2 separate regions of the Homo sapiens genome follow, and region 2 is linked to region 1. Evidence: fine-mapped expression QTL. A gene starts in region 1. The other region holds a variant in brackets. All regions are shown on one strand. Distances are between the middles of the regions. Region 1 holds the start of MEF2C (myocyte enhancer factor 2C). Region 2 overlaps MEF2C-AS1 (MEF2C antisense RNA 1).

Region 1 (16,907 bases):
TTGAAATATAATTCCTTAGATGCTGAGAGCTCAGACTATAAAATCCAGTTTGGGGCCCGTGTTCTTTCCTATTGGTCTGTCAGGTGAAAAACTCCGGCTGGCCAGAGTGGGACAGGGGCGGCGGCTAGACCTGCAGAGCCCCTCTTGCTCTCCCAGGTTTGCAAAATGGTTGGAGCGCTTCGGGCAGCCTGCGTCACCAGACGTGGACCGTGTGCCAGCGCTTTGTGCACTGTTAAAGGGTGGGTTCATTTTACTTGGCCCCTGGTATTTTCGTGGGTCGCTCTGAGCCCATCCCGAGCTCTTTTGGATCGCATTTCTCCAGCCCAGGATCCCAAAACCAGACCAGCAGGACAACTACCCCGGCACTGCCACCGCCCGTTTCCACAGTCCACCCACAGCCGTTGCGCCCTCCTCCATTCCCCAGAGCCCATCACGCACCCTCTTTACCAACAAACCACCGGACGCTTTTCCCCCAGCCGTGACTTCCACAACCCCCAACTAAATACAAGTCGGCACACCCCCTTCCTTCCCCGCGCCAAACCAGCGTGGCCGCCCACTCGTCGCACCCAGGTCCAGCAGGTCCAGCAGGTCCCCAGGAGGGCCCAGAGCCTGCCTCCTGCTCGCCCGTGGCGCACGCACGTGGCGCACTCACCCCCTACCAGCAGCCTCCGAGCTCTAGAAACACTCCAAGGAAGGAACCCCCGCCCCTTCAGCTCCGTCGGCCGGGAGAAAAGGGGGGGGGGAAGGGGGGGGAAGCAGAGACGGGCAGAGAGAAGAGTATATAGGTGATGAGAGCAGTGTTGGAGGGGAGGATCGGCAATAATTGGATGGCGTTGCAGCTGTTGCGCCTCTGCTGAACGCCCAGCCAGAGCGGATTCACTTTTCACACAAATCAACCGGAGGGATTGTTGCTGCCTGCAATCAATAACTCAGCGGAGTGAGTTGCTCAAACTAGAGGCGTCCCTCGTCTGGGTCTTTGAGGGCCGTCCGGATTGAGTCCCAGCGCTCTGCTTTCCAAACAAAGAAGTGGGCACCAAAACGCAGGACGAGATTTTTAATCCCCACTTCCACCACAACCCCGGGTAAAGATTTTTTAAAATGAAAAAGCACACACATAGTAAGGTATCTAGAAGAAACAGTTAAAAGGGGAAGTGTGAAAATCCATTCCTTGAATTGAAGGTTTCTGTGATATTTCAAGAAATGGGATAGAATCAATGTTCTGATGAACAACATTTAACAATTTTGTAAGTAAAGGTAAAGTCGCATTAAATTTATTCATGCATGTGGTTATTTTTGAATCAGCCACACACTTGCAAGCAAATTACTGATCAAGCCTTATTTGGACATACTGATTACAGGAAAAGAAAGAAATGTATCATAATTTGTAGTGTCGTTTAAAAAAAAAAAAAAAACCTTACCATACCTTTCAGATGTTATTTCATGAAGATTGCATTTCTATAAGGTGAATAGGCCCTGGGAGATGTGTATTATGATTCTCACTTAATAGACTGTAAAATGAAGCACAACTGGAAGAAAGAGAACTCACCAAATCACTTGGTAGTGACTACAAGACCAAGTTTGGACTCACTCACTGTGGGCCTAAGCCTAAAAACCTAAACTCAACTAACACCCATAAAGTAAAACTGGCCAAAATTTTTCATTTCTCTTTGACTCTGAAGCAACTTAAAAATAAACCTCAGAGATGTCAACCCAAATATAGAGGCTTTATAAATGATTCTTCACTATGCAAAGTCCTCCTGCTATTACAAATGGGAAAAGAGATATTGACCATCCTGGTCTGATGTGTCTCAAGGCTGGTTCTCTTTCTGGGACTAGCCTCAGTCTGAAGCCAAGGAAAGGTTCATTTGTGTGCACAAAGTCATGGAAAGCCAGACTAAAACAGAAATCAGAACACAGGAGCATTTGTCTGTGCTCAGTATAGTTAAACACTGCTTGGAAAAATAAGGTATTATTGGTAATAGAATTTATAAACCGTACTGAATACACATCACTAATCCCAAAGTATTTTAAATTGGCCTTTAGGCAATGCATAAAATAAGCCCTTTCAGTAACCTCAACTGCATTGCAAACATTTCCCGATTTGACAAATTGTGTTAGCTTCGGATATAATGGATTTGACATTCTTCTGTAATTCTCTATCAGATATAAAACTGAAGGTACAGAAATACAGATAAACATAGAATCCTTAGATATGTGTAAACCTTGTCTTGAAATAACAAATCCTTTGTATATTGCAAATTCTCAATCACAGACATTCCACATGCTGTATATTCTTCTTGGGTTAATGCTGCACCTAGTGAATTTTTGAAATTTAGATATTTGGCACTATTTATGTTAAAGATTATTATCACAATGCATGACAATTTCAGTTGTCTTATATTCAAAACACTTTGGTTTAAAATCAGAATATTGTTACTTCAGATTAGAAGTTTTAGAAATAAATCTATTTGAAAGTATTTTCATATCAGCATTAACAAAATACTATATACTGTTTTGCACTTCCACATTTGAAGGTGCCAAAGAAGAGTTGCAAACTGTGAAGTAACTTCTATGAAGAGATGAAGTAAAGAACGGAAGGCAAATGATTGTGGCAGTAAAGAAGTGTATGTGGTGAGTGCTCACATTTGTTTTTATCATTTACCACAGAGTTACCATAAAGGTAAAACTGCCAAACTCCTTGGCCTTAGGTATTTACAGAATAGACGTGTATAACAATAATAAAGAGTTAAATGACCACCATACACTTTATATTATAAGCAATGACATATCATTTTGCTTAAAGATCATGTCATCTTTCAGGGCCTACTTTTGCAAGTACTGTATCTTATAAAATTAATCTATTTCATGGGAAGTCCTGTGTATCATCAATACTATAATTAGACAAAGATTAAAATATGTAATGCTATTGGAATTTGTGTTTCACTGCTTTTTAGATTTTTCTAAACCACCATGTTCACTTATCATGTTTGTGTTAAAAGTATTCTGGCTGAGGAACAAATACTATACAGTTGAATAATCTTAAGGGGTACATTAATCTATAGCCTTTCTTCATCTCAGGGTGGGTTGCTGTGGCAACCGCCCCAGTTCACTTTAAAATAATTTTTAAAGCTCACTTCAAGAGCTACACCCAGCGTGGGCCAGGCTTAAAAGCAGGCAGACCCAGTGCACAGGGCTTTAGTGGACCGCTGCTTTAATGTAGGGAAGTAGTGAAGAGAGGAGGTTGGAGTAAGATGGTATGCAGCTCTGAACAGAAATTGCAATATTAGCTTTCCCTGGAGTTAAAATCCCGAGGAGCATGCTCTCTGTAACTTCTATGACACTTTAATTAAATATATTGCTAAACATAATTCTTTTGAGGGAAAAACAAGTGACTCTATATTTACATTAACAATAAAGCATTTACAACTTAATGTAGGAGAAATATTTGGTGATTAGAAAAAAATAAAAGCTGGTACAGTAGTACATCAATCCCAGACATAATTTTCTTTTAAAGGAATTGTCACCTATTATTTAACTGGATAGACCCTACCTTCCAATTGGTTTAAAGGGTAGAAACATTTTCTGTTTTCCAATGATAGAACTGGAATAGGTTACAGAACTCATTTAACACATAAGCGAACTGAAGCCTAGAAAGGACAAATCCCTTAGTAAGGCACAAATTTTGAACTAGATAGAGAATCCAGGTCTCCTGACACCTAGTACAAGCTCCTCCCTACATGAGAAAATAGTCTGATCCTAACCAAGTATCATTAGATGGCAAGGATCAGGATGATTTTAAAGAAAAAACAAAAACAGAAACAGAAACCAAAAGTCCAGAAGTATTTAAAGAATACAAAGCACACTCTGGATTAACTACTTTGTGGATTACTCATGAATAATTTTAAATCTCAGGTGATTTTCTAATGTATATTTCTTCATATCTCTTCTGCTTCAACTGTAAAGGCTCATGGGAAGAAAACTAATGGTAATATTAACTTAGGTCACACATAATTAAGAAGCTAAATCTGCTGAGGGGAAAATCCTGTATTTTAAAAGGCCAACTGTGATACATTCCAGATCCAAATTATTTTCAAATTATCCAGTGTGGGGTTATACTTATTTTTGAATGCTTGCAGTATCATTAATAATTATGGGTTTGTTATAATGGGTATTATTAAATAATTATTTAAAATATGAAAAGGTAAAATAAAATAATTTCTTTTTGAAAGAACATCTAAAACTGAAGTGTACTGTGGTAAACAGAAATACCCTCTATAATTCATTAAAAACAGCAGGGCTGAAATTCATGTATTGGCTATGTGTTTGCTCATGTCAAATAGACTGTTGTAACTCACTGCATTAATTTTAGGTATTATGGCAATAAACTTAGATGGTCCTTCAAATGCTTTGCTTTTTCAGGACCTTCGTGAATCTTGAAGAAAATTAATTTTATTTTTACCACCATATATAGACATATCTTAGTATTCGAAATATCTTTGCCCTTTAAATTTTTGGATTTTCAGAGAAGTTGTACTTTGAATGGAAACCTGATACAGATGTTCTCTGCCATATTATTAAAATGAATTCATGGTAATGGCAAACTCAACATTTGAAAAACCGGCAAACAAAATACATTGTAAATACTAATCTGCAAGAAATACTACTATTTCAGATGGTTTTTGCTTTGTGACAGTTTGTGATGCATTCCTATAATAAAAGGGAGGGAATGGTCTTAGTTTTGCTGATAGTCACAATGATGAGCTGGAACTTGAAGATTGTTCAGATCTAGTTGTACTTGCCTATAAAATAAACCTTCCCCTTTCAAGTGAAGCCTTGGGACAGTTGCCTAAATGTTGAGGCCACTCTTCTGAGAGAAGCTACTCACATCAAATACCTCCTACATTGAAGCAGGAGGCTTTTTGAACCATACTGTCCTCATATATTAAAATAGTCATCTGGAGGCATATTGCTGAACTTAACAGGAAATACAACTAGTCATTGGGTTAAACGTAGTGCTAAAAGGAATTTTCTAAAGTGAGGAAATCTTTAGTTAGCTAGATATTTCAATATACTATTGTCTAATCTCATATATTCCATGTTCTATTAATTTTCCCTTCTTGCTTTCACAATATTTTTTAAAAAATAGTTTGGTTTAAACATTTTATGTAATCTATAATTCTACTGGCATGCAATCTTGTCTTTTCATGATTCTATACTAGTTGATGTATTTTATCTTTGGCTTTATTGGGCATGGTATATATTAACAGTTGGTTAGGGCGGGAGGTGCCCAATCTCTAGTAGCCTAAATATTAAAGCCTTTTTTTTTTTTTTTTGTAAGGAAAAGTGTTTATCATGCTTTAACCTTAACATAAGTATCCTCCCTTATCAGTCTCTATTTCTGCTTCCTGTGCAGCTGAAACTCTTCAGGATAAGTGAAGTCATCAGCTATCGGCTAGGGTAGCCTAATGCATTTGGGAAGTTGGTTTGGTTTACATGTTAATGACCTGGATGAAGTCCAGTAAGGTGTGGAAAAGATAGAGTGGGGGGAGGGGGGGAACTCCGAGGAAGCTGCTTCCTCGGTAAATATTTCCAAACTGATTAGAAAGTTCATGGCCCCGCGATGAAGTCGAGATCTCAAATACTGGTAATTATTTTATTATTTCGTACATTACTAACATTAGAGAAACCTTTCGGCTCGCTTTCTAGCGCTCCAACCTCTCAGGGTGAAAACCGCGACTTCTGGGCGTGCAGGAAAAGCACGCTGGAATCGAGTGCTGCAGACATCCTGGACCGTGGTTTTTACGCGTGAGTAACGGAGGAGCGCACCGACCGGTGGAAGAGAGAAGTGGCTAACGCGTGTCCAAAAGGGGGAAAAGTCACAAGAGCAACTATTAGGGTCGCGCTCCTATTGGTCAGAGGAAAGATCCCGACTTTAGAAGGACTTTCCTGCTGGCTGGCTCGCAGCGTCCCCGGAGAGCAAGCGAGCGCGCCGCAGCGGGAGACTAGGTTCTCTCCGAGCGTCCTCCGCAGAGGCGCCGCGAGAGGAGCAGGGAGCCGCAGCTCGCCGTGTTGTCTTCATTTCGTGCAATAAAGAATTGTCATTAGGTTTGCGTATGGCATGTGCTATTACCCCACCGTAAAACTAAAATTAGCAAAATGTCAGGAATGGAAAGATTGATTCACCAAGATGCAATTATCATTTAAAAGTGCTTGATTGAGGTACTGATGTTCAGTGATTTATTCTGCATACCATATACATAATTAAAGTAGTGTAGTGGAGTAATTTATCAATCTAGTTGAGACTGGAGGGGTGAGGAGGGAGCTGCTGTATGTTTGTTTTATTAAAATGCTCCGAGGTCTAGTCCCGCCCCCCTTTTGCAAGAGTGAAACTGATGATTTCTCCAGCTCGCGAGGAAAGAGTCAACGGTTTGGGATTGTGGGGGAGAGAGAGACGGAGAGAAAAAGGCAGCGCGAAGCAAAGGCAAGGACAAAATTAAATAAAGGGGGAAAAAAGGAGGCAAAAGACATTTCATCGGACGTGCTGCTTAGAACCCCAACCATTCGTGCTCCGTCTTCCCTACCACCCCCGCCTCCCCTCCCAGTATCCTTCAATCCCCCCCGCCCCCACCACCCCCAGTCTTTTTTACGCGATGTTTCAAACGCTGTGAGCTGTTCTCCTTTTCCCATTCGTCTTCTGTCACTTCCTTCCTGGACGCAGTTTTCTGGACGAGTCTGGTTACTTTTAATCCGACCGGCCGCTGAGAGCCACTTTCTCCTCCTCCTCCTCCTCCTCCTTCTCTTCCTCCTCCTTCTTCCTCCTCCTCCTCCTCTTCCGAGCGGCCTCGGCGCGCGCGAATGCGCGGCCCCGCGCCCCCCCCCTCGCGCGCGCTCCCCTCGCGCGCGCGCACACACGCACACATCGTCTCCAGCTCTCTGCTCGCTCTGCTCGCAGTCACAGACACTTGAGCACACGCGTACACCCAGACATCTTCGGGCTGCTATTGGATTGACTTTGAAGGTTCTGTGTGGGTCGCCGTGGCTGCATGTTTGAATCAGGTGGAGAAGCACTTCAACGCTGGACGAAGTAAAGATTATTGTTGTTATTTTTTTTTTCTCTCTCTCTCTCTCTTAAGAAAGGAAAATATCCCAAGGACTAATCTGATCGGGTCTTCCTTCATGTAAGTACCCCTGATATTTCTCGAGGAAATAGAAAACCCGGGTATTGTCTCTAAAATCTGCATCAATATATTCCACGGCACTGTGTCTATCTATCCCTGTGCCTTTTTTGAAGGCTGAAGTTGAGGCTCGTTGTGCATTCTTTTTCGTTAGATTCCATGATTTCCTTGTTTGTTGCTAAAAGTAACTTTTTAGATAGTCGTATCCGTTTGCCATCAGCTATTGAAATCACTCCTGACTCGTTCCTGTCACACCAGTGTATTTAAAGTTTCATGAAGTTAGTTCACGTCATTAGCATGTTTGATATGGTGGAGCGTGTGGAGCCTGGTGGATTTTAATATTTCACAGCATGTTCTGTGACCTTGAAGTAGACGCCTTAAGATTTAGCAGTTAGTTCACTGTGGAAAGATGCTCCCATGAGTCCCCCCAAAGACACTGATTTGCCCTGGGTTATGCTTCTGAGCCACTAATTCTTGGGATTAGTTTGACCTAAAGCATGGCTGTCTGTCAGAGTATACCTTTGTGCATTTCCTTCCCTCACCAAAGTGCCGGCTTGACAGAGGGCTTCTTAATTGGTGTGGACAAAAAGTAATATCCCTGCCATAGTAGTCTACACATTTCACAATTCACGTTCGATTTCAGCATATGGATTGCTGTTCAGGTCAAGTCAAATACATAGCTGTTTAAAAGCAAGCAAGGTTAAGTCACTTAAATTGCCTTCTCTTTGGACTTGGAATGAAAGTTACCAAACTCGATGATAAAGTTTGTCACAAAGGAAGTATATATAGATGTGGCACATTGTTTATTTTATTATTAAATATTGTGGAAGTATTTAAATTTAATGCTAATGTTACCTTCCTTCCCTGAACATGGCTATTGCTTTTTAAAGGAAATTTTATATCTGAATCACTTCTGACTATTCTAAGTCCAGTAGTTATCATTCTTTGGGGAGAGCCTTTTTTTGTCACATTTTAGGAATGCGTGTCTTTTGTATAAAATACTTTATATGTAAATGCTGACAGTAGACTAAGTAGAATTGGGCTCTCTGCCAGTTCCTTAACCGGTCCTCAGTGGAGAATTGCTTTGACACAAAGTGCGTTTTACTATTGTGAATCTGAAACTAACTCTAATAGTAACTGTCTTATGAAATGCTTGGGGACTGCATATAATTTCTAAGTGCTATAAAGGAAACTCCAGCCACCTCATTATACCAGTCCAAAAAAAAAAAAAGCGACTAGCCTACTTTCACTGGCACCTTGCAATGGAATTGTGGTTGCAGAGTAAAGATGTTTATGTGGAGTATAATAACTCCAATCCCTAGAGACTTGGTAGGACATGGAAATGTGACCACCTGTGAACCCCGTTTAACCTCGTATTGCATACCAATTTTAGCTTTAAATAGATCAACAATCTCTAATTTGAAACTAAAACATCTTATTTAATTTTAAAAAATGTCAGTTTTGGCTAGTCTTTAAAAACATTCAGCATGTACCAATATGGTATAAGCAGTATTTTTGTTTCTCCATCAGTTTCAACTAAAGATAATGCAGTTAAAAAGCCATATTATTGTCTTCCAGTGTATGCATGAAATTAAGTTAAAAGAAGTAGTTCTAAAGCAAGACTCAGAACTTGATAGGTAAAATGAGATGTCCCTATCTAACATCCTATTTCAAGAGGAAAGAAATATTTTAAATCAAATATCTCATTCTATTTGTAGAAAAGTACATTTAGCTATGTATTCTGCTACTAACTCAATTCTAAAAGTTTTCATCAAAACAGTCTTTAAACATAACATTTGCTTAAAATTTGGTTCTCCCGTCAAAGAGACAGTAGGTGGCTGTTACCTTTACTTCAAATTTTACTAAATTTTATAAAAACCTACTATTTTTATTAATATAATTCACACAGCATTCGAATGTTTGACTTTTTTTCAGACTTCTTAGGAAAGGCAGCATTTTACTTCATTCATTAATTGCACCATTTACGTCCTGATTGCTGTGCATGTGGAATATATTGAAAGATAATATTAAAGTGTAAGTTTTATTAAATGTTAATTTGTTTTTTATTTCAATAACAAATGAGCAATTTATAATAAAAACAGTTTTCCACCTTTTCTGAGCTATTCATATTTTAAAAGTGTGCAATCACAGATATTAACTTTTCAAGAGAGAAGCACATTAATACTAGATAACTCCATGAAACTTAGATAACAAGAGGCACTTTGCCTCTTTTCTTCTTTGTAAACATGTTCATTTTGAAAAATTTGGGGGAAAAGATACCTGAAATTTTTTCCTTGGCCCTAACTTAACGGAATCAATAAATTCCATAACACTGCAAACGTATCTTTCTAATAAATACTTTATTTAAACTTCTTTTATAAAGAACAGCACTGAATAACTCCTTAGCATATCTTAACATTATCTTTTAAAACTTTCTTCTGTTTATTGTAGTATATTTTGTGGTTTTATTTCTCAACTCTAAAGTGTGGTATAATTTGAGTCTATGAAATCTCAGAAAGTGACAAAAATGGGGAAATAGCTGTGCAGCAATACTTGTGCTACATAACAACAAAGACATAGTTATTAAACAGAATTCTGGCTTTGGGGACATGATTCGAAGCAACATAGAAGAATTTAATATGCAATTAATGGTCACAAGATGAACTGTTAAGAGATTATTAATAAAGTTACACTTTTTTTTCAAAAGCACATCCTCTGAGAAAATACCACACAAATTAATATCTAAAACTTATCAAAATACACGTATTCATTCTATACTAATGTGGTGATTGCCTAGACACGATGAAATGATTTAATCACTGTTGTTCCATCAGTATGCTGCATGTGGAAAGACAGGTAATTAAGATCCCCGTCCTTAGCACTGTACCTTAATCTTATAGGCGCGTGGACTGTCTTGCACTCAGTAAAGCTTGACTGTTCACCGAGATCTGTCACCTTTAGGAAATCAAACCAGATTACAGAGGTGATTCACAAAACCAGGAACAACAGAGTCTATGCACGTTACAAAAGGCAGATTACATAGTTCACATGTTATTTTGATAGGTCAAAGATAAAAGCTGATTGTTGAGGAATGGCAAGACACTCAATTTCAAATGATTGCTTAGATAAGCATACTTTGACCCTGTTGCTTCATCATTATGATCCATTCAAACAATGGAAAATTCAGTTTTCAAATGACAGGCTTTCAGTAGTGAAGTAAGAGAAAACATGTCCTTTTTTATGTATGTCTTCATTGTGTAAATTTTAAGTTCCATCATTTCTTTATGAACAAACATTAAATTGTCTGCTTACATGAAGCAGGTATTGTAAGGCTTAAATGCATTAGACATTTTCAGAGGCGTTATAAAGAGCACAAAACAGAATTTGCCAGAAATAAAACATACACTCATGTTATTGAGTAATTCAGCAGAAAATGCATAATAGTCAATATCCATTATGTTATTCTGTTACCAAATATATTCTACATAAAAATGTGTAATTACATAGTTATGAATCCATATATGTGAAACATATCTTCATAAAAGTTCATTGGTCAAATTTTATATATATATATAATATATATATTTCATGAATGTTATATAAAGATCATTCTTTACAACAGAATATGATGTTTTGAGAGTTTATTTCAGAGAATAAAGTTTTGGTTTACATAATAACATTTTGAAAATCTTAACTTCTTACACACCCAACTTTACAGTAATTTTTTGCTTCTTCTAAAATTGAAGTCCTTTTTTACCCAACTGATGCCTCCTAGTGTTTCACACAATAAAACACTAATGAGTCACCCATAAATGTAAACATTGCATTTTCATTGCCTACATCATCTGTGATACATAAAATTAATATTTATGTGTTTAATTTTCTGTGCACTATTATAATAAGATAGAAAATTTTAGTGAATGAGATGTTTCATCTGAGTGGATTTGTGGCACGCACTTGCAGGTTTTCTTTGACCATCACAATATCTTACTAAGTTTTAACAAGTTTATTACCTTCAGTTGCAGTTATATATTCACTCTTTATATTCACTCTTATTTCAAGTGAGAAACATAGGTAAATAACAAAGCTTTCATTTTGTAGGCCTGGGAATTATACAGTTGGGTTCATTCTGAAATGCCTGATAAATTGCACAAGGACTATCCATTTCATTTACACACTAAAATATCTTAAAAGAGATATAATTTTTTTTCCTGCTGTGTCTTTACACTTGAAAATTTCTTTGTAAAAGTGGAATAAAGAAAGACTATTTAGAAAAGATAAAATCAAAGATAAATGCAAAATTTTCTATAAATATGGAGTATATTTATTAGAAAATAACAACAAAAGAAAAACTTTCCTTGGAAGGAAACATATTATTCTACATAAAGGGAAGTCGTGTTAGAACACAATATCCAATGACCAGCAGCTTGCCTTAATGAGGTAGAAGTTAGTGGGTGCCAACTTTGGTGTGAGTTTTCTGCCATTAGGATGGTAAGCGTAGACCTGTGATATTTTTGCATGTTTGTGATTTCAAACAGCTCTCTGATTCTACTTCCTAAGTTTCTAAATGTTTTTTATCCAATATACTTATGAAAGAAAGGGGTCATTCCTGTAATGGGTCTTAAATTGAAAGGAGGCCATCAAAAACTTGTAACATTCATGGGCCTCTTCCTGAGGTGTCATACAACATACCTGTACACAAAAACATTCATGAGTTTCTTCTACTAACACAAACATTCTATAGCATCCAAGTGTAGACACTAGATTGAACTTCATTCTGTATATGTGTCATTTAGTTCTCCTGACTCAAAATACACAGTGTATTAACAATATTTGACTATCACTTAAGATTTTCTAATTTAGTCAATAATACAGTGCTATTACAATTGTTGGACACATTTCAAAGAATGTAAGGGGGTGTGTTCCTTTCGTTCAAGGAAGCAAACATGTAGAAAGGGGTGGACCTTTCCCACAAGAGCCACATTTCTTCCCTTGGAGAATTGAAGCAAATATGCAGTACGTAAGTGAATAGCAGCATGAGAAAGAAAATAATTTGCAATGATCTCCTATAGTTAGTGAGCAAAGAAAATTGTCAGTTTTTTTTAAAGTAGCTCTTATTGACAACCTATCTTAAACTGAATACTGAAAAAAAGTCTATGAAAGTTTTATAATTTCAGTATGTTTTAACATTCATGCGTGAAATAACTGTAAAGTACACTGTAATAATTTTGGTCTTGCTCAAATCAAGAATTTTTTAGTAACCATGTTATTTTACAGACAATATTGAGGCATAACAAAATAAAGGGTGCTGGAAGCATTCATTCCTTACCCCTCTCTTTTAAGAATACGAAGATGGCATTGATGTTCTTTTGTTATTTTTGTCTGTGAAAGAAAAATAATTAAAGAATGTTCTATGACAAAGAATACCATTGTAAAAATAAGATTATAGAAAAGGTTATTTAATATACTATTATCTCACATCTCCTTGATACTATTTTAATGTTTACTGCAAAAAATCATATTCCTATTAAATATGGAAATTAGGTGATACATGTTATACAAATTTATGGTTTAGTTTTAGGTGATATGAGTAACATTTATTTGTCATCGCCATAATTCATTTGCTGTACATTGTCATTTTATTGTACAAGTTAAATCTTGGTATATATTTTTAAAATACAGCCAATGTAAACAAAGTTCAAAGTACATGAAGAGAATCTTTTGAGGGCATTGAAAAGGAAATTGACGACATTACAAGCAATAAAAACAGTAAACATATTACAGGCAGATTTCTTCAGGAATCATTACTCTTAAATAATGCAGACATTATAAAGACTTTATTAATTCTTAATGCTGTAAATTTGAAATGAATGGAGCAATGTTGTTCCTCCTGCAAGTGGTTGGGATTCATGTAGAATGACAGTGCAAGTCCTCAAGCAGTGATTTAAATTAAGTACCCAAAACTTGTTTTTAGAGGCTGGAGGAACTAACTGATCTTTGAATCAGTCCCTTTTGAGAACCTGCTTTTTCCAAATAGCATCATGAGCGTGGTGGTCTGGTTTTCCTCTTCTATCTTGTTGTCATAGATAAGATGCACATGAAGAATTCATATAAATTGCTCTCAGATACTATGGATTCCTAGCATATTGGATTAAAAAAGAAGTGGATATGGTCCTTCGATAGAATGTGAAGTGTTTTTTTAAAAATCAGCCAAGAACTATGCCTGTCTTTTTTTCACACCTGTGATTCTTTCAGCAAGTTAGAAGGATAGCAAGAGAATGTGCATCCTTCCCCAAACCCCGAAGACAGGCAGCTTTGGCTTAAATATGCTTATTTATTTTCAAAATTAGAAAATAAACACATTAATGTAAATATGTTGAGACAGACAAAGAAATTTGTCTGCTACTTAATAAACACGCGATTTATACTTTTTGTCTTCTAATTAATTGTCGACCCTGAATAAGGTGGTACAACTAAGGCATATTATGGAAAACTGGCATTATTGCTTAATGTAACATGAGGGATTGGAATTTCTTTAAAGTAATTTTAAGATATGATTATTTAGCAGAAATATTCACTGGAGCATTTTACTTTTAGAAATTATCGTCACACAAGGAAGCCTTTATAGGACCGACTACCTAATTGCAGTCAAAGATCTCTTGAATGAATGAACACACACACACAGAAGAACACACATTTTAAGAATATAGTGGTCCTATATTTTTAAAAATTTTTGCCACATTTTTTATATCTGAACAGAACGTATGTGTCTAAGCAGATGTTTTAAGTTATATCCTTCATGTAGGTGAGTCTGTAAATGTACCATTTAACTTAAATGGCTTTGTGGGAAGGTAGTTTGAGGAGTTTAAAAAGGAAAAAAAAAAAAAAAAAAAACTCCAGTTACTACAGTTTCAGCTCTTTCTTTTTAAAAAACAGTAATTACACTCAGGATAAAGAAAGAAAAATAAACTCTTTTAATTCTTTGTAACATCCACAGTTTTTCAGGTAGAGTTCTGGTATATTTTTATTCCTGAATATGCAGGGCAGGTACTGGCAGCAGAGCTACAAAATGAAAACTTCCTGGCTGCAGACCAGATACTGTGCACAGTGCCACATCATAAACTTCCCCTCTTCTGTCTCGGAGTGATTTCAGCCCTAACTAATGTCCTTTATTTCCCCCTACATAGGGTAAGGAACAGAGGGCCTTCTTCCTGGGAAATAGGGGAAATACCTTTGGGAAAGGAAAAGTATAATGTTTCCCTTCTTTAACTTGAAAATTCTGCCTCTTAAATTACTAAGACATTAACTGCAAAGTGGATTCAGTATGTTTCCTTTTTATTCCCATATAGCAGTTTAGAATACATAAAACAATAGGTGTGAGATAGAAAATGAGACCTCTTCCCCACCCCCTACCTCCAGCACACCCAGACCCAATCAGATATCTGTACTTTTTGTTTCGAAAAGAAAAATATAATGGTTTCTTTTCAATGAAGCTTGTGCATTATATTCCAGATATGTTAGATCATTTTGTGATGCAAATTAGCATTGAGGTTTTTTGTACTTATCTCGGGAAATAGCAACGTTCCACCACAATGTGTGGTGCTGCAAAAATTTTTATTGATAAACACCCACACTTTAAATGATTATTAGGTCAAAATAGAGAGTACAGGGGGAGAAAATGTGAGCTTTTAGTTTTCAGATTTGTTTTATGCTTTTCATTTGAAAGGTACAGTGTAAGTTCTGTGTATAATACCATGCAAAATAAATTGACTTCTAAATATCTGCACTAATATTCCTTGTATCTGAAACTATAGTCTAAAAGCTTGTACTTCTCCTTAAAAAATAAAGTAAAACTTTGTTAAGAAGCAGGCTTTAATTACCAGTTACATTTTCAACTGTTACCCATGTGATTTTTAAAAAATCCTATTAAAAAATAATTTCTAGCTGCCATGGCTCCTTTCAATCAGTAGAATTCTCATTTGTATGAGGTGCAATCAGATTATTGCCAGCACACCTTTCTAAAACTAGCCTTCTTCTTTAGAAATGTATTAAATGGGAGCCTTCAGGAGAAAGTGTTACCACTTAATAAATATTTGTTCTAATTTTATTTTTAAACTAAATTATTGATTTAACAGTATATGAATAGTGTATAAATGTTAGCTTAGTTGTTAACCCACTACACTAATTATTAATTGCCTATATGAAATTTACCAAATTAGACCAACAGTTAAGTGTAATTTAATTTTATTTCTCTTGAAACTTAAATAGATAAGAATGATAATTTTAATTATGTTTAAATATCAAGCATTTATTTTTCTGTGAATGCAAATGTTCCCGATAAATTGTTAAGAAATTAATACAACATAGATCTTAAAAAATGTATAAGGCAGCTTATAAGAATATGATAACAATGGCATATTCCTACACCTGGCACTTTTTCAAGACCCATTAGCAAGGGAGGAAAAAGATGTTAAACTTTGTTTTGTAAATGCTAATATATATATGAGTCAATACTTTCTGACATTTATTTGTTAGAAAATTACACACATTTAAAAATTCAAATTAAAACTATGCTTCTATTTAGGCTATTGTAAGAGATTTCTTTATTTTCTTGGAAATTCTCTGGAACAGTAGGGTCATTTGAATCATACCCGTTGGTATTGTCAGATACATTGTAAAGTTTCAACTATTGAACATATGTATGGAATAGAAATTTTAAAATAGAAAATTCGCTATCTTGCCATTTAAGTATGATAAAACTATACCCGATTAAAACGTTGACTCTATTAGAGGTTCGCCTAGTAAGTAATTCTCTGGTCAAGAATTTGGGAAATTTTAAACTCTGTTAACCATTAAAACAATTACTTCTTTAAGGTACCGGATTTTCATCCATATTTGAGGAGCCTTATTAAGTTGTTGGGTGGTCTTTTTGTAAAGGTTTATGTGGTTAAAAAAGTAGATCTTTTCACCCTTCTATTACAGTTAACATTAATATCTTTAAAAGGTACTATATAAATCCAGACCTAATTTATTCTGGATGATTTTTCTTAACTAAATGAAATCTAACAAATTTGTCTATTTTTAAGTGAATCTTTTTTTTATTTCTAGTATTTATTGGAAGTTCACTTAGACTCTATATAGGTTAGAAGTTAAAGTAAATAATTTTGACTATTTTTTTCTTTCATTTCATGTTTGAATATTTCCCCCTTTACATAAACCAAAAAAAAAAAAAAAAAAAAAAAAAAAAAATCCGTGACGACATTGATAGATTTGCAGAAGGCTGAGTAAGATACTCAGTACCCATTAATTGTTTCCCTATGACTCTTGGGTTGAAATGAATCGGCAATATCCCTTCCAAGACTGTTTGATCTTGCTTGATTTAGAGTGAGCGTTATGTGATTTTTTCCCTCCGCTTCTCTCATTTTATAGCTTCAAAAAAATCAGAGAATTCTTGACTTCAGTGTTTTTTCCTTCCGTTTTCATTGTTTTTGGATTCTCTCCTGTCTGAGCTTCCTTCTTGCTTCAAAGTATTTGGTATCGTGAAAGCAAGTGCACTTTTAACTTGTTTTGACTACACATGGGCGACAGAATTGTTTTAGATGCTAACTTACCTCCTTACACTTGAGAAACTGATGTGGTTCATCACAGCCCAATGCCATGTCTTGAAACAACTGCGGACACTGATCTTGAAATAGCCAGGGCTATAGGATCATGTCTTTGTAAAGAACAACA
Region 2 (16,907 bases), 540 kb before region 1:
ACTCATTGCCATGGGTTACCTTGGCCACTGAACCATTTAAGACTTGACACTGCTTTGAACGATCTTTTCTCAGATGTGGTGACATCTGAGGCTTTCCGCCTAAACTATCTGGTTTTTGGGCTTCCTATTTGAATCTGTCTTTATCAACTTTTCTGGAACGATAACACTGCAGCTGACATTTAAATGTGTTAACCTCTGCTCCTGCCAGAGATGCAAAACCATAATTTTACCTGGTTCTGTGTTTCTCTCTTATTGAAAGTACAGGAGGATCACTCAGACTGCAGATGAGACTATTTGCCTATCTACCAAATCAAAGTTTGAAGCGGATTGATTCTACATCAAACTAAGGAAAACTAATATGCAAAAGGAAGTCAAAGCTTTTAAGGAAGGGAGTGACATAATCACTTTTGTTGTTGAAATGGATAACTGTAATAAAAAATGGTACAAGTAGTGTAGAAGAAGATAGTGGCAGAAAAAATAGGAGAAATTTTGTAAATGCTAAAGTTCAGGCAAGTGGGAGGTTACTCTGAAGTCACAGAGTAATACCACAGGAGTCAAGAGTTAGGGAGTTTTTAATGTCATCCCAACAAATGAAACAAGTTCAATTTAGTGTTAGTAGTATTTTTTTAAATGATTTTGGGTGAAAAAGATGGTGCGTGGTTGCACAGGAAAGTTATTTATTGGTGATTTCTGAGATTTTGGTGCACTCATCACCAGAGCAGTGTATACTGTACCCAATGTGTAGCCTTTTATCCCTCACCCACCTCTATCCTTCCCCCTAAGTTCCCAAAGCTCATTATATCATTCTTATGCCTTTGTGTCCTCATAGCTTAGCTCCCACTAATAAGTGAGAACATACAATGTTTGGTTTTCTGTTCCTGAGTTACTTCACTGAAAATAACGTTTCCAACTCCATCCAGGTTGTAACAAATGCCATTATTTCATTCCTTTTTCTAGCTGAGTAGTATTCCATGGTCCATATATACCACATTTTCTTTATCCACTTGTTGGTCAATGGGCATTTAAGCTGGTTCCATATTTTTATAATTATGAATTCTGCTGCTATACACATGCATGTGCAAGTGTCTTTTTCATATAATGACTTCTTTTCCTCTGAGTAGATACCCAGTAGTGGGACTGTTGGATCAAATGGTAGTTCTGCTTTTAGTTGTTTAAGGAATCTTTATACTGTTTTCCATAGTGGTTGTACTAGTTTCCATTCCCACCAGCAGTGTAAAAGTGTTCTCTTTTCACCACATCCATGCCAACATCTGTTATTTTTTCATTTTTTAATTATGGCCATTCTTTCAGGAGTAAGATGGTATCTCATTGTGGTTTTGCTATGCATTTCCCTGATAATTAGTGATGTTGAGCATTTCTTCATATGGTTTTTTTGTCATTTGTATATCTTCTTTTGAGAATTGTCTATTCATGTCCTTTGCCCATTTTTTGATAGCCTTCTTTGGGGTTTTCTTTCTGATTTGAGTTCCTTGTAGATTCTGGATGTCAGTTTTGTCAGATCCATAGTTTGCAAATATTTTCTCCCACTCTGTGGATTGTCTGATTACTCTGCTGATTATTTCTTTGGTTGTGCAGAAGCTTTTTAGTTTAATTAGGTCCCATTTATTTATCTTTGTTTTTCTTGCATTTGCTTTTGGGTTGTCGCTCATGAAGTCTTCGTCTAAGCCAATGTCTAGAAGAGTTTTTTAGTGTTATTACCTAAAATTTTTATGGTTTCGGGTCTTAGACTTAAGTCTTTGATCCATCTTGAGTTGATTTTTATATAAGGTGAAATATAAAGGTGAGGATCCAGCTTCATTCTTCTACCTGTGGCTTGCCAATTATCCCAGTATCATTTGTTGCATAGGGTACTTTTTTCCCATTTTATATTTTTGTTTGTTTAAATATTTGGCTATATTTCTGGGTTCTCCATTCAGTTCCATTGGCCTACTGTTTATTTTTATATTAGTACCATGCTGTTTTGGTAACTACGACCTTGTAGTATAGTTTGAAGTTTTGTAATGTGATGCCTCCAGATTTCTTCTTTATGCTGAGTCTTGCTTTTGCTATGTGGGCTCTTTTTTGGGTCCATGTGAATTTTAGGATTGTTTTTCCTAGTTCTGTGAAGAATGATGATGGTATTTTTATTGGAATTACATTGAATTTGTAGATTGCTTTTGGCAGTATGGTCACTTTCACAATATTGATTCTACCCCTTCCTGAACATGGGATGGTGTTTTCATTTGTTTGTGTCATCTATGATTTCTTTCAGCAGTGTTTTATAGTTTTCCCTGTAGCGATCATTCATCTCCTTGGTTAGGTATACTGTTAACCATTTCATTTTAGTTTTTTGCAGCTGTTGTTGATTCTTAGCTTGGTTATTGTTGGTGTATAGCAGTGCTACTGATTTGTGTACATTGATTTTGTATCTTGAAACTTTACTGAATTAATTTATCAAATCCAGGAGCTTTTTAGATGAGTCTTTATGGTTTTCTAGGTATGCAGTCATATCATCGGCAATTCCTGATGAACATAGATGCAAAAATCCTCAACAAAATACTAGCTAAGTGAATCCAACAGCATATCAAAATGATAATACACCATGATCAAGGGGGTTTCATACCGGGGATGCAGGGATGGTTTAACAGATACAAGTCAATAAGGGTGAAACATCACATAAACAGGATTAAAAACACAAGTCATATGCTTATCTCAATAGATGCAGAAAAAGCATTTGACAAAATTCAGCATCGCTTTATGATTAAAACCGCAGCAAGATCGGCATAGAAGGGACATACCTCATGGTAATAAAAGCTATCTATGACAGACACACAGCCAACATTAATACTGAATGGGGAAATGTTGACGTTTTCCCACTGAGATCTAGAACAAGACAAGGATATCTTCTTTCACCATTTCTATTCAGCATACTATTGGAATTCCTAGCCAGAGCAATCAGATGAGAGAAAGAAATAAGGGCATCCATATCAGTAAAGAAGTAGTATTTTTGCTAATTAAATATGTTGCACATTTGACAATGTAACAAGTGACAAAGTAATTGGAGAGACATTCTGTAGATTAGATTATTATATTCATCAATCATTTAATAGTGTGTGTGAAGTAAAGATAGTGAGAGAACTCTAATGATTGAGAAAAAGTACAAAACACAAAAGAGAAGGCAGCTGAAAAGTTACTTGAACTAGTAAACAACACACATGATGTGATACTCAAGGAGATACTATTGTTTTAAAAATTAGGAATCAGCTGGGCATGGTGGCTCATACCTGTAGTCCCAGCACTTTGGGAGGCTGAGGTGGGTAGATCACAAGGTCAAGAGATCAAGACCATCCTGGCTAACATGGTGAAACCCTGTCTCTACTAAAAATACAAAAATCAGCTGGGCATGGTGGTGTGCACCTGTAGTCCCAGCTGCTTGGGAGGCTGAGGCAGGAGAATTGCTTGAACCCGGGAGGTGGAGGTTACAGGGAGCTGAGATTGCGCCACTGCACTCCAGCCTGGACGAAAGAGCGAGACTCCATCTCAAAAAAAAAAAAAAAAAAAGTTAGGAATCACCACTTTGGGAGGCTGAGGCAGGTAGATATAGATCACTTGAGGCCAAGAGTTCAAGACCAGCCTGGCCAACATGGCGAAACTCCATCTCTACTAAAAATGCAAAAACTATCCAGACATACTAGCACATACCTGTAATCCCAGCTACTCGGGAGGTTAAGGCATGAGAATCATTTGAACCCGGCAGGTGGAGGTTGCAGTGAGGTGAGATCCCACCACTGCACTCCAGCCTAGGGGGAAAAAAATAAGAGGGAATCACATATTATGTTTTCTTCACTCATAAAGAAATTTACCTAATTTGACTTCTTTGTTATTGGCACTGAAAAATAAGTTCATTCCCATAAAATTCAATGTGACACTTTGACTAAATAAAATTGTTATTACCAACATTTTATGACTGAGAGGTTAAACATTAATAAGTTAGTCCAGTAACTCAGCCAGCAGAGGTTAGTAGCATTTGGAAAAGAATGCTCTAATTTCTCTTTAGAGACCTTCAGTTCTGGAAGAGATTGGTGTTGAAATCCTTTAGGTTAGGGCCTAATCCTTTGGGTTCAGCATTTATGATATGAACAGTAGTAAAGATTGCAATCTTAAGGATGAGAAAATAGCAAGTCAGAATGTAGAGGTTCTCAGACTAATAATCACAGTCAGCAAAGGTTAGCTTCCTGATTCTCTGCTTGAGGGAGATGATGACTCATTAATTATACAAAGCAACTCCAAATACGGCTTTCACACATTTCTCTTTTCTAACCCAATTTTACTTTAAGTGAGGAGTGAACACAAAATGTAGAGTTAAAACTCCTTTCTTACAAAAAAGGAAGAAAGAAAAAGAAAAATAAAAAACCTTCTACTTATACAATTGTATGGTAAATATACTAGTCTCAGCATTAATCTTACACTGAAGATGGCCTTTTGATCACTTTATTACTTGTAATTTTCTTTTTCTCAACATCAAAATGAAAATCTCAAGTTCAACTGGGTGGGAAATGACAGAACCATATTTTGTACAAAATAAGGATGATATTCAAAATTGTATTCTAGGCACTGTTTCCAATTAACTATTTGTTGATAATTCTGATGCATGCCCTGAACAAAAGAGGTAAAATTTATCACAGAAAGAACTATCTTGATGTTATAAAACCCCTGCTGTTCTTTGGGACCTCTCAAAGCAGCAGCCTGCCTTGGTTCAGGACAAAGTCATTTTCTTGTATGATTGACTAAAAAGGGGTCATGTTACCAAACTAAGGTGGAGAATACAAAAAGTAATATTGTACTACTAGGCATTCTGCATACTTATGTTAAAGTAAAGTAATTATAATGGATGTGTATTAATAAATGAATACATTTTTATAAATAAATATAATGGTCTTTTTAGAAGATACAAATATAACTAAATTTATCTTTTCTTATTTCTCTGTAATATATCCATGAAAAGATATCCTAAAAAGAAAAACAATTCTCAACTGTTGCTTAGAAGAATGAGAGAACCAAATAAATTCTCAATTCTTACAATAATTTCTACAGTCTGTCACCTAATGAGTTAAAACCTAGGAATGGTGTCTTCTGTCAAGCGGCCCTAGGCAGTCTTTCTGGAGAGGCATGCTGCCAGAAGTTGTTGTTCTAACAAGGGGAGGAATGAAAGGTACTACGGCAGATACAACTTGAATTCAGAGAAATTGGCTCAGTAAAATCAATTTAATGTGTGCAGTATAGGAAATATTATGTTGAGGATAGCCTGAACATTCCAGCCCCTAATATGTCTAATAATTTCAGGGCTAGAAAAAGAAAACAGATGCAAAAATCCGCCTGAACCCTAAACTCAATTTGGAGAATTTAAGAGGAAAGCAGGAGTGAAATGCTCATCTCCAGCTGACATACTCCTTGTTTTCAAATACGGAAGATCTACCCTGCTATTAAATAGAGCATTCTTTACTATGCAGATTATGAGAAGAGGAATGGAAGTATCTCCCCAAGATAGCGTGCTCCCTAATTCTAACTCCATGTGATACTTCATGTTGAAAATCTTGCTATTGGTATAATGCTCTCACATAAGAATGAAAGTTTCAGCATCACAGAAATACAACAGACAGTTTCCTTTGTCACATCACTAAGCCATTCCTTGAGTTTGTAGTTGAATCTTGAAAATTTTTCTTTCGCAGTGAATGGCACCAGTGGAATTTTCTCCAACACCAAAGAGAGCCATAAACCTAGCACTTGTCACAAAATCTCAAATCTGTCTACCATTAGACTAGATCTCTAGAGATTAGCCAAAGAATCACAAGAAGAGAGGAAGAACAATAATAATAACTTGACTTAGTAAAATTTTAAAGAACCAGAAAAAATAATTGGGAGAAAAAAAAATGCCTGTGCTATTCCTGATACAGAACAATCACACAAAAGTAGATTTTGAAAACAGCTGGTATTCTTTTATACAGAAGAAAATAAAGCATAGTAGCTGCAAAACAAAAACTGAACCAATTAAACCTTGTTAAAGAAAAATCTAAGTCATCAATGAAAATAACTAAGTAGTGAAAATCAATGACTCGAACGACCACTCAATGAAACAGGAAATAAAATTAAGCAACATGCAAAATGGAGAGAAGATCATTAATTTTCTGAGCTTAAAAAAAGAGGGAAAAATGGTAGACATGGAAGAATATCACCGTTTTTTAAATGCCTAATGAAACTACATTACTGGGCAATGATTACCAGCGCTAATCAACATCACACATTGAGATACCCAGAAATTGTATGCCTCATGAAGGAAGTACACAATACCAGCTATGGAGAATTCTTGTTGAAAACAAAGTTCACTCTGATTGAACCTATTAGTCTGTTCTTATGCTGCTAACAAAGGCATACCTTAGACTGGGTAACATAAACAAAAGAGGTTTAATTGACTCACAGTTCAGCATGGCTGGGGAGGCCTTAGGAAACTTACAATCACGGTGGAAGGGGAAGCAAACATGTCCTTCACATGACAACAGGAAGGAGAAGTGAAGGGGAACTGTCCTTTAGAAAACCATCAGATCTTATGAAATGTATT[C/T]GCTATCACAAGAAGACCATGGGAAAAAGCCACCCCCATGAATCACTTACCTCCCACTGGGTCCCTTCTACAACACATGGGGCTTATGGGAGCTACATTTCAAGATGAGATTTGGGTGGGAACACAGCCAAACCATATTATTCATCCCTTGGCTCCTCCCATATCTCATGTCTTCACATTTCAAAACCAATCATGCCTTCTCAGCAATCTCTCAAAGTCTTAACTCATTTCAGCATTTACTCAAAAGCCCACAGTCCAAAGTCTTATCTGGTACAAGGCAAGTCCCTTCCACATATGAACCTGTAAGATAAAAAATTTAAAAAAAGTTGGTTACTTCCTAGATACAATGGGGGCTGGACATTGGGTAAATACACCAGTTCCAAATGGGAAAAATTGGTCAAAACCAAGGGACTACAGGCCCCATGCAAGTCCAAAATCCAATAGGGCAGTCATTAAACTTTAAAGTTCCAAAATGAAATCCTTTGACTCCATGTCTCACATCCAAGTCAAGCAGACACAAGAAATGAGTTCCCAGGGCCTTGGACAGCTCCATCCTGTGGCTTTACAGGGTACAGCCCCCTGTCCAGACTGCATTCACAGGCTGGTGTTGAGTGTCTGCAGCTTTTCCAGGTACACGGTACAAGCTGTCAGTGGATCTACCATTCCGGGGTCTGGAGGACAATGGTCCTCTTCTCACACCTCTTCTAGGCAGGGCCCCAGTGGGGACTCTGTGTGGGGGGCTCCAACCTCACATTTCCCTGCTGTACCACCCTATCAGAGGTTCTCCTTTAGGGCTCTGACCCTCCAGCACACCTCTGCCTGGACAACCAGGTGTTTCCATACATCCTCTGAAATCTAGGCAAAGGTTCCCAAACCTTAATTCTTGTCTTCTATGCACCTGCAGGACCAATACCACATGGAAGCTGCCAAGGCTTGGGGCTTTCACCCTCTGAAGCAAAGGCCTAAGCTGTACATTGGCCCCTTTTAGCCATGGCTGGGGTGGATGGAATGCAGGTCACCAAGTCCCAAGGCTGCACACAGCAGGGGAGCCCTGGACCTAGCCCAGGAGACCATTTTTTCACCCTAGGGATCTGGGCCTGTGATGGGACGGGCTGCTGTGAAGGTCTCTGACATGCCCTGGAGACATTTTCCCCGGTGTCTTGGCAATTCGCATTTGACTCCTCATTGCTTATGCAAATTTCTGCTGCTGGCCAAAATATCCCCCCAGAAAATCATTTTTTGTTTTCCACTGCATTGTCAAGTTGCAAATTTTTCAAACTTTTATGCTGTGTTTCCTCTTGAATGCTTTGCCACTTAGAAATTTCTTCCCCCAGATACCCTAAATCATCTCTCTCAAGTTCAAAGTTCCACAGATCTCTAGGGCAGGGGCAAAATGCTGCCAGTCTCTTTGCACAGCAAGAGTGATTTTTACTCCAGTTCTCAACAAGTTCCTCATCTCTATCTGAGACCACCTCAGCCTGGACTTTACTATCCATATCACTATCAGTATTTTGGTCAAAGCCATTCAACAAGTCTCTAGGAAGTTCCAAACCTTCCCACATTTTCCTATCTTCTTCTGAGTCCTCCAAACTGTTCCAACCTCTGCCTGTTACCCACTTCCTAAGTAACTTCCACATTATTGGCTATCTTTACAGCAGCACTCCACTACACCATACCAATGTACTGTATTAGTCTTCTCACATTGCTGATAAAGGAGGCTGAGTAATTTATAAAGGAAAGAGGTTTGATTCACAGTTCAGCATGGCTGGGGAGGTCTTTGGAAACTTACAATCATGGTGGAAGGGGGAGCAAACACATCCTTCTTCACTTGATGGCAGAAAGAAGTGCAGGAGAACTTCGCCATTTATAAAACCATGAGATCTTGTGACACTTATTCACTGTCATGAGAACACTTGGGGAAAACCTGCCCCCATGATTCAATTGCCTCCCACTGGGTCCTTCCCACTGGGTCCCTCCCATGACACATGGGTATTATGGGAGCTACAGTTCAAGATGAGATTTGGGTGGGGACACAGCCAAACCATATCAGGCTTGTGCTATCTAATTTTTAGTGTGCTGGGTACAGAGGAACATATGCCATAAGAATGCAGTAAGAAAAACCTGATTGTGAGAAATTCTGCAAGAGAAGTAATTCAGTTTCTTCAACAGGTCAATTGGAGGGGAAAAAAGAAGAGTAGAGAGTAGATTTTAAAAGACTTGAGAGACATAGCAACTAAATTTACATCTGAACCAAACCTAAAGTTATGATAAAATCAATGCCAGAATATGATGAGGAGCTGGTCTCAGAATGCTTACAGCAAAACAGTAATACATTAATGTCATGCAAAATCAAATTGTCACTCATATACATGGAGGGAGGGTAGGGAAGAGCTTCTTTTCTCTTCTACAGGGCTGAGTTCTATTTGCCTAACACTCCATTCCCCAGCTCACATCCAAGCAGAAGCAGCTGAAGCAAATATTTACTGGGGACAGAAAGAGGATCATGGAGGGTGAGCTGGAAGAGTCTTTATGGCAATGGCTAAGAACAATACAACTTCTTTTAAACTGAAAAAAAACAAATGAGTTTCATGTACCCTAGTGAGATTCTAATTTAAATTATAAGCTTTATCCCTGTACAGACAGTGCTAGATCAGCTAACTCAAAATCCATATTGCATTCAGTACCAGGAATGAGAAGATGAGGGGAGTAATCTCAAATTAATATAGTTTTTGAATAAGACTTAATAATTGTCTTCTACTATACAATTACACATTGGTTCCAGATTGGTTAATTATGTATGAAGAGGAAAACTTCCTTCATAGGTAAATTTCTTAGACCCAAACAATTCTGTAACAAGAGGCAGTGAAAACAGTCATAGTGCCAGAAACATGGAAATGCTTGCTCATAAAGAGAGTGTGGGCTTTGTGACTCAAAAGTCATTCAATTCAATTCTACAATGCAAAAACACAAAACCAAGGAGAAAATGGGAATTCAGGTGTTTGGAATAGACTATGCAGAAAAGGAAGAACTTTATAAAAGACTTCACAATGGAGATGCCATAAAGGCAAATTTAGAAATGTATGGAAGAATCTAATGATGGCTCAAATTGAATTTTTTGCAAGATGAGACATTTTGCATAAATGGATTTTAGTCCCTGCCACATGCTGAATGCATAGGGCCAAAATTAACCTTTTAATGGGAGAGTCCTTCTGACTGAGTGTGCTTACTTCAATTTCTTTGAACTTTAACTCATAAGGACGATATAATATAATTCACTCTTTCATTCTTGTTTCAGAGTCGCTGGGTGGGTGAGTATGCCTAATTCTGAAATTCAACATTTAGGAAGTACACTATAACACAGATATAAGCCAATTCCTCTATAAAGGAAGAATTGGTATTTTGGTTGCCTTCTCTGTCTTTTTCCACATATTATTTCTCAATTGGTGAAGAGAGATACTACCTATTATTTATCTCCTCCTATATGAACACAAAAGAAAGATTTTATCATTTGAGTTTACTTTCTGAAAACTTGCACACCAAAATAAACTGTTCCTACAGGATCATTAATGGCACTGTCCAGAAATCATTAAACAAAAGTAACTCTTAAAAGGGAATGCTTCTGTAGAAAGAAAACTGGAATTTCCAGTGAAACCAATGACAAAATAAAAGATAAGAGAAAAAAAAGAATTAGAGATCCTTAGTTTACATAAAGCCTCATTTATTAAACAAATACTTATCTATTAGATGCTCTGCTAGGCAGAGTAAATACAATGTTGAACAGAAATATGTGCGCCTGCTTCCACAGAGTTTGAATTGTGTCTAAACAGAAGTAACAAAACAAAACTAAACAAAAACCACCAAGAGAGAAAGATGCTATGTTATCCTATATGCCTAAATTGAGAAACAGAATCGCTATCACACTAGCTGGGCCAAAAAGGGTAATGTGTTGAAGAAACAAGAAGGGAATTTTTTCTTTATCTTTCTTAGGCTACATGGTATTTTAATACTAATACTTCTGTAGTGCAATTTTATTTTCTTTTTTCTTTTCTCTCCCCAGGCTATCCCTATTTCAGTATGCACATGGTAGACACTGAGTGCCCAATGTTGGTTCTGAATTTCAACACACAATTCGGATTTCATCTTTGAGTCATAGTTCCTGATTGACTCACAGAAATCTGTTTGACCCAAAGTTAAGGGTCTACCACACAACCAATCATTAGTAGCCAAAGGTTGGGTAGATTGGGGGTTAGAATCATATAACACTAACATAAGGATTAGCTCTCTTGGAAGACTTTGCTACTTGCCTATGCAATGTCTATTCTCTACAACTTTATGGTTATAATAGAAACCTAATTTTGTATGGGGCAACAATGTTTCCAGTTGAAATATAATATTCCTTATCCTTTCTTGTGGATAAAAATAGTCATTTGACAAGGTTCTGGCACAATGAAATGTAACTTGGATTTTCCAGATGGGGCTTTGGATAAAGCTTTTTAAAGGGAAGACATTAGAGGTTCATGGCCTTTGTCTTTGGCTTTCGTATTCTTCTTCCCCAGAACTCAGATACAAAGCTGGTGGTGGCTAACCATCTTACAAGCATGGAATGGCAAGCACAATGGCAAGTGTTCATGTTAAAATCAGCTGAGTGAAGAGGTTAAAGAGAGTAAGTCTTAAATATTATTTCAAAAGCTACTGTAAAAGCCCTGGACTTCTCACCTGCAGAATTTTGTGAAGTGACAAAAATAAACTTTCTGTTTAGCTAAATCACTATGAATTTTATTTTCAGTCATAGGCAGCCAAATGATTTAAGTACTGCCCCTTTGTGATTAGTTTGTGATGCCTATCGATATCAGATAAGTGGATTTTGATTGATTAAGCAATTCAAGCAGACTTACCTCCAACAATAAATGGGAACAACAACCGTAATCAAAATACAAAAAGAAAACAAAAAGTTATTGTTAAAGATGCAGACAAAGTTAGTAAAAAATTAGAAGAGAATGGAGAACGTTTGGGCAAAAGCCGAATACTTTTTACACTCTATGACAGTTTAGACCAATATATATAAGCGTGGAATAAGAATATTTGTGCAATGCCTCTTAAATCATTCAACACAATGTAAACATCAAAACTAGGGTAAAAATGCAACTATAAGTTAAGTCTAACTAATAAAAGTGTTCATTAGATGAGAACGAGAACGTCTTATAGAAAAATAGATGGAAATACTATGTAAACAATGAGTTAAAATCGCAGATTGAAGTGAAAAAAATACTAGCTAGATGTAAGACATGAACCTAGAGCAAATGAAATGCAGAAAGTTAAAAAGAGAATGACAAAGACTTATTAATAAACTTTGTGTGAAGTCATCATGAGTATTATTAATATCAAACAAATCAGAAATTAATCACTACATAAGCTAGTCCATTATTTACTAGTTTTTAAAAATGTTAATAAAAGCCAAACATTAACAAATATTCATGTACCAAACAATATAGTATCCAAAAGCATAAGGCAAACGTTTTTAGAAACATAGTATTTGTCAGAAGTTGAAAATTTGTTTAATCTCATTATGTGTCTGTGACAGGTTCATTATGCAAAAATCAATAGAACTTCCAGGGGAAATTAAAAAGTTACAGAAAAGTATGATTTTGATGTGATAGAGGTCTCAGTTTGAACCTTGGATCTAAGTAAAATGCTATGTTAACAAAAGCCTCATTTTGGAATTAAAGAGGAAGAAGAAATAGGAGAAAGGAAATATTTTTGCCCCAACCTAAGAAAATGAGAAAAAGAGATAAAGAAGGGGAGGTGGAGGGTAGGTGAAGCCGCAGGGGAGGAAGAGGAGACATAAGAGGAGAAGAGAAATCTAATTCAGGTTCTGTATTATTGCCATTATATGCATTACTTCATTTAGTCTTCACATGTGCCTATTCCCATTTTACAGAGGAATGAATATAATTTCAGAGGTGAGTAATATTCCCAAGATCCAACAAAGGGTTTTTCTTTGTTTTGTTTTTAATGCTATCATATTTTCTTTTTCTAATATTTGAAATTTAGTTTTTAGGGTCATTCTACTTTGAAAAGTTTACAAAATAAAGAAGAGTAATTTTCTAGTTTTGGAGAAACAAAATTTTAAATTGTGGTAATGATAAGCTTCTTGACTCAAGAGTCTAAACTGTATATTATCATTTGCTTAGAACTTGTTGATAAATACTCACAATTTACATTTTTAATGGTCATACAATTGAATGTGTTTTGAGAGAAACTATTTCTAATATTATTCACATTTGTTTTCCAATCTCAGAAGCATGAAACACAAAGGGGTAAATAGCTTAAAATAAATAAAAAGTTGTGTAGTTTACATACAAATTACATGATCCAGGTCAAAATATATAGCAAAATAGAAATCTTCTCACTTTTACAAAGTAACCATTTGAAATCCTTTAAAGCATTATTCTCTTTAAACATTTTGAAACAAATTTGCCTTTTGATTGGAACTATGTGTTTCATTATAAAGATGGAACACGATGTTCTGGCTTACATATTCTCTGCAGAAGGAGGTCCTTTTTTGTACTGAATTTTTAGCATATAGTAAAGATCCAGATTGTAAAAAAAATTAATTTCAGGCATGACAGACTGGAAGTATATATTGAACAGATCTGGGAACAGAAATGATGCAAATGCCTTTCTCCCAGCTTCTGAAAATTATGTAATGGACCAGAATTTCAAGATAGACTTCTGTTTGAGTGAAGCATGGACTCTCAATCAGAGGACAGTACCAAAAATGGCTTTTGGAAAGCAAAGTATAAGGCAGTTTCCCACAAATGGTAGTTCGATGAGCATTGACTGTAGTGGTATCATTATGGCTAAGCATCAGGATATTCACACATATTGTAATTATTAGTGGTGGTAACAGAACTTGGATAGTAAATATTTATTGTGAATGAGCAAGAGCAGTAAAGGAAATTGACTCGTGAAAGGAAGAGGACCAGTGATGCGTTAAAAGCTAGAAATAAAAATCAATAAAATTGCTTTAATTTTCAGCATATTGCTATTATGTTTAAAGTATTATACACTTTGGTCAGTCACAATGATGATGGTAACATTTATACTGCCTATACATTGATTTTTATATTATTTAGTGTTTTCACCTCAAAGCAAACAAGAATACTGATAAATAAGCTGATAAAAATACTTGAAAGATTTGTCCCTTCCTGTCATTAAACTATTTAAAATATGGTAGTTGCAAAGAGTGCAACTGAATACTGCTAACCACTTGCTATTATGAAAATTTTACCATAATGTGTTTGATAAATGTCATTAAAAAAACTAATGAAAAATTAGTAATTCTAATACATGAAAAATTAGTTCATTTATACTTGCATACATATACCTAGAATTAGAAATCTTTCTAATAATACATAACAACTATCAATAGAACAGATGGATGGACTTTTAGAAAGGTTCTGTTAGCCATTCCACTTAAAAATTGTCTACAAATTCAAGTCAATGCAATGCAACTCAACAAATGTTTTATCAAGAGTCTGTTAATGTGCAATTTTTCCCACAAAATGTTTCTAGGGAGGGAAGGAATAGAAAAGAAACACATCCAAATTTTTTTTGTAAAAAGGACATGACAAATCACTCAAAAATACAAACAAAATGCTGTGGAAATATACAGGTGTCTTAAATGTCTGAAGCATCAGCAAAGACTTCATGGCAGGGCTGGCATCTGAGATGGTAATGTTAGGGCAAGAATTCAACGTGAAGAGCTATGAAGGGGGACTTCATTCAAGGATGAAAGCCAGTGCAAGCCTACTCTCATAAAATTACCTATAATACAACAGTAGAAAGCCATTAGCTTACTTTCCCTTAAGAAGGTAAAAGATCTATAAGAGACAGTAGTGATATTCAGTTATCCAAGCACTCAGAGACCCCAAGTAGCCAGGGCTTTTCTACAAGCAGCTTGTGCAAGATGGATTTTCAATCCTATCTCTATCTCTACTCTATCACCTATTATTTATTTATCTAGTCCTATTTTTCAATTATGATATATCTGTAAAATAGCCGCTACCTAATTTTATCAATGACGAAGTAGATACACACACACACACACACACACACACACAGACACACATACACACACTGTGTTTGCTGTTCTCAAAATATCACCCTGATGACATGACCACAGAATTTATAAACCTTCAAACCTCACTGTGTGAAATACTTTCGTAGAAATTTTTCAGAATGATCCTGCCCAAACCCATGTTTTTAAGATAATGTATAGGTGAAATTCTATGTCACATAGACTCCTGATTTTAAATTCTCATTAGGATAAGATTTGTGTTACGAAAAAAAAATACAAAAAAAAGATAAATGAGCAGAAATGTGACATATTAATAAAACAGAGAGAAAAAGAGAAAATGTGTGTAATTAGCTTAATTGCTTTTGTGATGTATTCAAATCAAAATATTTTCAATATTTTAATCACAAAATATATTTTTAATATTTAAAATTATGGCTAATGCCTTAAATTCCTATTGTTTCATCATCTCCAGTAAATTTTCCTGAATATTTTTTCACTAATTATATTTTTTATTTCTCTAATGTGTTTTAAGTAGATCCAAGCTGAGATCTTTATTTCAATGTAAAAACTTTAACATATATATATATATGTTTTTTTAAAACACTCTTTTTGCTCTTAGAATTTTCTTTTTTATGAAATGGAATAGTAAATGGCCATATACTATTTAATGGCGATAGAAGTGCCTACCTGTTCTGGAATCACTTTCTCCTTCTCTACTTATGGTATACTATTCTGTTACTTCCTTTTCCTAATAATACTTCTTTATATCCTCATATCTCAATGTCTGTTTATATGCTCCCTCCTCCAAGAAGTCTTTCAAAATAAAATGAAATATAATAATAATTATATATTTCTTACTGTTTTTACATGGCTGGCACTGAGCTAAATGTTTTGCATCTATTGTCTCCTTCAATATTCTCAGAAACCCTCTAAGGAAATATTGTCAACCCATTTGATAAGGAATCAAGGGTCAACACGGTTCAAGTGACATCCAGGTCTGTCAGATTCCAAAAAGCAGCTTGCTCTTCGTGTGTGTGTGTGTGTGTGTGTGTGTGTGTGTGTGTGTGTGTGTTTTAATCTCATCCTTTTCCAGATGATTGTATGCAAATATATATGCATGAATTTGTGTGTGCAAATACATATACATACATATGTATGTATGAATATGTATATATGTGCAAATACGTATACATGGATGTGTTTGTGTGTGTATTCCTACTGATTTTTGTTGAAGATTACAGCCAGTCTTTTTATGTGTGCCTGCAGATTGGATCATAAAGCAGTTAAATGAAATGATAGAGTCTTATTCAGTCTTTATCCAGTCTTCATAGAGTCTTCTCATTTTTATTATTTAATGCAGTAACTGCCAGATAATAGTCACTCAATAAATTATTATTGATTGAATATCAAAAACATCTCTCAATTTACCTAGAGAACTGTCTGAATAGAGTAATAAACTCCTTACATTCTTATATTTTCATTCATTATTGCCCACACAGGTGCTTTTCACTAGGAATAATATTTTCTATTCATTTAATTTTCCCCATTTTTAAGCACGTTTTAAGGAAATTTGCCTATTACTCAGAATAATATATTCTAAAAATGTCAAATTTGATTTTGCATAGCAAAAATGATTACAGATTAAAAATTTTTATCACAAATCACCTTTCATAATAGGAAAAGTAAGAAATAATTTTTTTTGAGGGATCTTCTTTTTCAGTTGATACTAATTAGATTTTTTTAAACCAAGTTTAAAGCTCACACTGTTCTGGCTTGAACAGTGCCAAGTGATAATCCAATGTGACATACATTTCCTATAGCAATAACATTTTGGCAGATAAATTCCCCAATGAGAAACAACCATTTCTATGCTTAGATGAATTTTGTGATAGAACGCAAATGAAAAAAAAAAAGTAACAGAATTTTCAGAAAATACTCCACAGTATAATGAATCCCCTTTCCATATTTACAGAAAGTGCCTCAATCCATAGAGGGTAAAAACATTGAATATCTAATAAACAATACATCATAGATTCCTCATTGTCCTTGGAATGTTGATCGAATAACTGATTATTATTTACACTAAAATTCATTCCTAGAAATCTTGTATCCTTTCCCTTCATTATGCAATGCTGTCTTGGACCTGGGAGTCTAGAAATGTGGAAATTATAACACTTTGACACACCATGTAAATGAGGTATCGCAGTAACA

The links. PIP is the estimated chance that this variant, and not a neighbour inherited with it, causes the effect. A credible set is the group of variants that fine-mapping cannot tell apart.
Region 2: its variant is the best candidate, but not a certain one, in a credible set for the expression of MEF2C in whole blood (TOPMed, PIP 0.58).

The regions. Positions count from the first base shown.
Region 1 is chr5:88,873,226-88,890,132 of GRCh38, reverse strand. It overlaps MEF2C (myocyte enhancer factor 2C), which reads left to right and starts at 6,949. Exons shown (of 11, transcript NM_002397.5): 1 at 6,949-7,178. It overlaps MEF2C-AS1 (MEF2C antisense RNA 1), which reads right to left and starts at 6,803. Exons shown (of 10, transcript NR_136219.1): 1 at 6,648-6,803. RefSeq lists enhancers at 1-259, 474-673, 260-796, 5,842-5,891.
Region 2 is chr5:89,408,461-89,425,367 of GRCh38, reverse strand. All of the region lies in intron 8 of MEF2C-AS1 (MEF2C antisense RNA 1), which reads right to left. It overlaps LOC105379073 (a long non-coding RNA gene), which reads left to right and starts at 15,619. Exons shown (of 4, transcript XR_001742436.3): 1 at 15,619-15,691. The variant C/T (reference allele first, on the strand shown) is at 6,617.